2 linked regions of the Homo sapiens genome follow. Changing the gene in region 1 together with any one later gene gives a genetic interaction. Each region holds a gene or a part of one and is shown in the gene's direction. Other genes may lie near its edges.

The links.
Region 2: changes in RBM20 (region 1) and SPPL3 together harm fitness less than expected from each alone (positive genetic interaction), as found in Homo sapiens cells (one large-scale study listed by BioGRID).

The regions. Positions count from the first base shown.
Region 1 is NC_000010.11:110,815,213-110,818,863, forward strand, and holds part of RBM20 (RNA-binding protein 20), read left to right. Parts: intron 1-3,651. UniProt on the Homo sapiens protein: RNA-binding protein that acts as a regulator of mRNA splicing of a subset of genes encoding key structural proteins involved in cardiac development, such as TTN (Titin), CACNA1C, CAMK2D or PDLIM5/ENH.
Region 2 is NC_000012.12:120,765,185-120,768,509, reverse strand, and holds part of SPPL3 (signal peptide peptidase-like 3), read left to right. Parts: intron 1-21; coding exon 22-185; intron 186-916; coding exon 917-1,116; intron 1,117-2,137; coding exon 2,138-2,247; intron 2,248-3,325.

The DNA.
Region 1 (3,651 bases):
AAATACCTCAGTTCAAGATAATGAAAGGTGCAGACTTCTATAGAATCAGATGCCCTGAAAGGATGTGCTAGACAAATGCCCAGCGTTCCAGTGAAAGGACACCCAGTAGTCTTTTTTTGCCCATTACAAAGTCTGCCACGATTTTTCCTAACTGGCATAGCAGGAGGAAGAACAGGAGATGAGATTAGGGAAGAGGGTGAGACTCATGGAAGACACTGTGTGCCTCACCAAGGACTTGAACTGGATCCCAAGGACCTGGTGAACCAGTGGATATTTTAAAAAGTGTATGTGCTTGGAGGTGTCCAAGTTGCTGGTGATGGATGATGGGCAGAGAGCAAGAGTTGGCAGGGGCTCAAGGAAAGCCTGGGCTTCATGTGGATACCACCAGCCTGCCAACCCTCTCTCCCCCAAGGCTGAGAGGTGGAGCTGCTTCCTGCACTTCTACTCACACTCCTGAGACTCTGCCCTGGGAACCTCATTTCTTCTACTGTTTTACCACCCTGCTCTCATCGGTTTGTATAACATTGCTCATTTAAGGTGACACTATGTGTCAGCCAAAGAGCCCCTGATGGAAAAAGAATCTCAGAAAGCCCCAAGAATTTCCCCACAGTTCTGTCCCTCAAGTTGGTTCTGCCTCTTACAACCCTGGAGTGGGGTCAGTAGGGACTTACTGGGGCCCCTCACAGATTGTGTCTTTAGGTTTGGAGCCAGGCAGTCCAACAGTGTGTGTTGGAATGACTGCAGAACAGAGAGTATTTTGCACTGTCCTCAAACTCTGTATGATGAACTCAAGAAAAGCCCAGACCCCACAGGGCTGCCCCTGGAGTCAGATAACAGGTGGCAACTGAACTTGGGAATGAAGGCAGCAGGGCTTGCTGTTCTTCCAGTGCACCAGGCACCTCCTGCCCTCAGCGCCTTTACAGGTGTTGCTGCTGCCGAGGAGCCACAAGTCTTCCTGGCTTGCTCCTCACCTCCTTCGTCTTTACTCATGGCCACATTCTCTACTGTCCCTGGCCACTGCACATGATTTCAACACCCCAACCTGCTCTTCTCCCTCCCACCACTGCAAACCATCTCAACACCCCACCCAACCCCCTCACCTCCCCCGACACTACTGCAGACCATCTCAACACCCCAACCCATTCCTCTCCCTCCCCACCACTGCATACCATCTCAACACCCCAACCCACTCTTCTCCCTCCCCGCCACTGCAGACCATCTCAACACCCCAACCTGCTCCCCTCCCTCTCGTCACTGCAGACCATCTCAATACCCCAACCCATTCCTCTCCCTCGCACCGCTGCAGACCACCTCAACACCTCAACCCCCTCCTCTCCCTCCCTGCTTTCCTGTTTTTGGTGGCATTTACCACCTTCAAACCTATCACTTAATGTCTTTATTTTACTTAGTGTCTATTGTCACCCCCAGCTCCAGGTGTAAACTTCACAAGGCAGGAAGTTTTGTCTGTTGTGTTCACTGCTGTGTTCCCAGTCCCTAGAGGAGGGCTTGGCACAGAGCAGGTGTCCAGTGAGTACCTGTTGAAGGTATGAAGGTTGGAACCCAGACTCTGGAAGCAAAGGCCTGGCTTCTGAGAACCAGGTCAGACCCTGCTTTCTTCTGCCTCACTTTTCTTGTTTGTAAAATGGATGTGATCACAAGGCTGTTGTAGTACTGTAAAGAGGTCATGCTCATTAAAATATCCTGAGCTCTCTGGAGAAAGTTTCTGTGGTTGAGAAGCCAGTGTGCGTGCTGCTCCGTGGTGATGGGTGGCCACGTCCATACCTGAGACCCAATCCTGGCCACAGGACCATAAAGAGGAGGAAAGAAATGAAGTCACAGATAAGGAAAACATGGGGAAGAAACACTGCTACATCCTACTGGGAGGGAGGGTTCGAGAGTGGCAGGCCCAGGTGACTAGGGAAGGGAAGCCAGGCTAATGACAAGTGGAGCCAGGCCAGCATGATGGGACCATGGCTGACTGAGAAAGTGGTGCCATCTGTGGGGCCGGAGCTACTGCTCAGCTCCATTCTACAGCTGCCATGCAGGAACGCATGCCACGCTGTCAAATCTCCCTTTTCTTAGAGCAAGACAAGTGTCTAGTATAAACCAAAACATACCTGTGGGCCAGATGCCATCTAGAAGCCCCAGAGTGTAACCCCTGGTATAACCAATCCATAAGAGGTGAAGATTTTTAAAACCCTTATGCTTCAGAGCCTAGACAAGACCCAACCATGCGGGAAGACAGGTGAGAACTTGTTATTCGCCCCACCCCCTTCTACCAATTTCATTCTTTTATTGACCAATATTTGTGGAGCACCCGGCATTGGGACTATAGTTAGTGACACTGAAATGACCCCTGGGCTCGTGGAGCTCATAGTCTAGTGAGAGAAATGCTAATCCAGTGATTTCTTAAATGAACAGAAGAGCTTGAGTATTAAGTGCTAAGAAGGAGATGAAGGTACGCAATGCTGTGAGTGCCTGTGATAAATCTGAGCCTTCTCAGGGTTAGGCTGTGCCTATTGAGATTTGGAGGCACGGTGAGTATTGACTGGGTGAAAAGGAAGTGAAAAGACAGAGGAAGCAGCATGCACAAGGGCCTCCAGCAGCTCCAGGGCTCCAGCGTTGCCGTAGCAGAGAGCTGGCATTAGAGTAACAGGAGGTGAGGCTGACTTGTCAACAGGGCCTACACTATGCAGGGCCTTGTAGGCAGGTTGAAGATTTTTGCCTTTATCTTAACTACCAGGGGAAGCAAATGAAGTATTTAAGCAAGAAAATACAGTGAAGAGGCTGGACACAGTGGCTCACGCCTGTAATTCCAGCACTTTGGGAGGCTGAGGCAGGCAGATCGCTTGAGGTCAGGAGTTCGAGACCAGCCTGGCCAACATGGTGAAACCCTGTCTCTACTAAAAATACAAAAAAAAAAAAAAAATTAGCCAGGTGTGGTGGCAGGCACCTGTAATCCCAGTTACTTGGGAGGCTGAGGCAGCAGAATTGCTTGAACCCAGGAGGCGGAGATTGCGGTGAGCCGAGATCATGCCATTGCACTCCAGCCTGGGCAACAAGAGCAAAACTCCATCTCAAAAAAAAAAAAAAAACCAAAACGACAATATGGTGAGGATGTGATCATTTTTGCATTTTGGAATGATCATTCTTGATTGCCTTGGGAAGAATAGATTTTGGGGGAAGGTACAGAGCAGAAGTGGGAGACCAGTTTCGAAGTGGTTCGGTAGCCCGGGCCCTGTGGTGGCAGAGCCCTGCTTGCAACAGTTGGCGTTTCAGTCTCAGTCTGTGAGCTGCTGTGGGCAGCTGGGGGCACCCGTTGCACCCATCTGTTCCACTTAAGCTGCTGCTCTCTCCTGGAAGTGATCCCACAGCAAAGGGAAGCTCTGAAAGGTTGTTTCCTTTGCCTGCAGGGTGGAAGAGCAGGGGTCTGCTTGGTGGAGGGCTTTCAGCCCGGCTAGCAAGACTGTCCCTGCCTCTCCCAACTCGAACTGAAGGGGGTCCCTTTACTGTGTTGATCTGGGAGTGTGGCTGCAGGAACTGCTTGGGAAGGGTAAGGATTATTCATTTTGACAAGAGAGGGCCATGGATAGGTGATTCAGGGAGATAAAAATAAAGTCACCTGTTGGTAGAAGCTATAATAGCTAAAAA
Region 2 (3,325 bases), on another chromosome or scaffold:
GGCATCTCTCCAACTCGGCAGGTATTTTTCTCAGCCTACATCTTCAATAGCAACGTCATGGTGAAGGTGGCCACTCAGCCGGCTGACAATCCCCTTGACGTTCTATCCCGGAAGCTCCACCTGGGGCCCAATGTTGGGCGTGATGTTCCTCGCCTGTCTCTGCCTGGAAAACTGGTCTTCCCAAGGTAAGACCTCATGCTATGACAGGACCACACTGTCTTCCTGTGCCTATCTGTTCCCGGCCTTGATCAGTCTCTAATGTCATCAGCATTCTGATCCCAACCTGGGGCCATTATCTCCATGCTGCAGAAGAGGAAATGAGGATGAGATTCTTGGCTTGCCAAGAAGGATCACTGAGTGATCCAGGCGGTGCCTTTTATTATTGATTAATGTCAGCAAACAGCCATGCCTTACTGCTGTTTCCACTGTTTAGAGTTGGCTGGAGGGAGTTAGGAGAATCTCGATCCTTTTAACTTGTAAGATATTTATAAAAATAAGTTCTAATGGTAGAATTATACAACTCCTGGTAATATAATCTTGGCAGAATGAATGTGCTGCTTTAATCTTCCACCTGTAATAGTAGCCAGGTGCTTATTTGAAGTCTCAACAGTGAATGTGTCACAAATGATGAATTGTTTGACATTTCTAGAGGAAGCAGCACTTATGCAAATCACTTCAGCAGTCACTTCCAAGGGGCTCTCCTGAAACAGGGGGGCCAAGGTGGAGACCTCTAGTGCCAGTACTGTTGCAGCTTTTTCTCTCTACACTCTTAAAACTAATGTTCCATCAGAAGAGATTTCCATCTGCCATGCAGATAAGCTCTTTGACTCCTTAAAAAGCTAACAAACTTTGCACAAAAGGAATAGAAACTGGATTGTAGAGTGTGACGTCACTAACCTGTGAAACTGCATTCCAGCTCCACTGGCAGCCACTTCTCCATGTTGGGCATCGGAGACATCGTTATGCCTGGTCTCCTACTATGCTTTGTCCTTCGCTATGACAACTACAAAAAGCAAGCCAGTGGGGACTCCTGTGGGGCCCCTGGACCTGCCAACATCTCCGGGCGCATGCAGAAGGTCTCCTACTTTCACTGCACCCTCATCGGATACTTTGTAGGTAAGAGAACCAGAGAGACTGCAGATGATCCTCGCTCTGGCTGTCCTCCAACCTTTGGAATTAAATCAGGTCTTCTAGCTACAGTTACTGGATGGAAGGAGAGCAGGAATTCTGGGTGCTGTAATAGACAGCCTGGCCCGTGAGATGCTAAGTGTTTTGTGTACTGGATAGGCCAGTTCCCTCTCCAGCTGTGTATCTGAAGAACGTTGTAGGAAAAGCAGGTCAGTCCTCAAAGCCAAGGACACACAGCACACAGTGCAGTGGATTAGTCTGTGCTTAAATCTTCCTCTAGAGTTGAATGACTGTCGTATTTATTTCCTACTTTATTCAATAGATACTTACTTACATTCATTAGTTCTACATTTCTGCCACTCTGACCTAGGCCAAGTTTTGTAGCCAGCTCATGTGTAGGCAGACAGGAGATGATTGTGATGGGGCTGGGAAAAGCAGTAACCTGCCCGCACATGCAACTGCTCCCGCACAGTGACTGGAAAGGAGCTTTTGCACTCCGTACGTCCTCCTCAACCCCAGCACTGTCCTCGTCCCACAGCAGTTCATTCACATGGGTTCATTTCAGTCCACAAACTCAGAGGGGCAAGGCAAGTGGCATTATCCCCATTAGACAGATGAGCAAGCTGAGGCTCAGAGAGGTGGAAGGTCTGAACTACATTTATGTTAGCTATTGTGAGTAGCAGAGTTGGAACTTGAACCCAGGTCTTCTGCCTCCCAAGTCCAGCATCACAGGAGACAGAGGCACACTTGGAGCTGGAAGGAGGGTTTGAACCCAGGAACCTGAGCAAGGAGTGAGACTTGGGTCAGTCATGTGTCCTTGGAGTTGTAGGTGTTTTTTAAAGCTGTGCTGATCCACATTTCTTCAACTGCCCAAGCTGGGCATTTCACACCCCAACCATAGAATGGACGACAGCACATTAGATCTGTACAGTTGCAGGACTTTGCCCAGCAGCAGCCAGGTGACACGGGTTCCCTCTCGTGTCTCACAGATGCCTCTCTCTCCTCACAGGCCTGCTCACTGCTACTGTGGCGTCTCGCATTCACCGGGCCGCCCAGCCCGCCCTTCTCTATTTGGTGCCATTTACTTTATTGCCACTCCTCACGATGGCCTATTTAAAGGTGAGAGCAGCAGTTATAAACCTGTGAAAGCAATAACTTGGATTGGCCTGTGCCTCGGTTTGCACTCTCCTCGCTGGAGGTGATTCTGCTTAAGCCCCTGAGTGAGCTTGTGATCTCGACTGTGTGTGTGTGTGTGTGTGTGTGTGTGTGTGTGTGTGTGTGCGCGCGCGCGCTACCCTGGCGTTAGCAAACGCTTCCAGATTCGTGCAGCCACTGACAGAAAATGCTGATGAGCTAGACCACTACACCACCTGGTCGAGGAATAACTAATTGAAAGCCCCAGAGCCCAGCTGAGGGTACTTCCTGCTTCTGTTCAAAGCAGTGCCCTCCTGCCACCTAACAGCTTAACACTACGTTAAAGTTTGGGAATAATTAAGATTGAATAGTGTTGAGGCAGCATATGATAAAACCAGAGTTCAAGAGCACATTATTTCCCAGATATCTATTCTCAGCCCCGTTTTACAGATGAGGAAGCAGATACAGAGGTCAACTTACTTGCCCAGCTCACTTGACTCACTACCTCTAGAGAGTTGATAAAAGCCCTTTTCTTGCTCAGGGAGCCTAAAAGCACCCCTTCTAGGGAGTCCTCCTAAAAATAGTGGGTTATTTTTGAATGGGTAAGATTTAAATGCTCTTTGGTTTCCCACAGAAGCAATCTGATCTCAGATCAAGCATCAGAAAGGGGCCAGGGGCATGGTGGCTCACGCCTGTAACCCCCGCACCTTGGGAGGCTGAGGCAGGCGGGTTAAGAGTTCAGGACCAGCCTGGCCAATATGGTGAAACCCTGTCTCTACTAAAAACACAAAAATGAACTGGGCATGGTGGTGAGTGCCTGTAATCCCAGCTACTCAGGAAGCTGAGGCAAGAGAATCGCTTGAACCCAGGAGTCGGAGGTTGCAGTGAGCTGAGATCTCGCCACTGCACTCACTCCAGCCTAGGTGACAGAGTGAGAACCCATCTCAAAAAAAAAAAATATCAGAAAGGGGCCAAGCGCAGCAGCTCATGCCTGTAATCCTAGCACTTTGGAAGGTCGAGGCAGGAGAATTGCCCGAGCCCAGGAGTTTGAGACCAGCCTGGC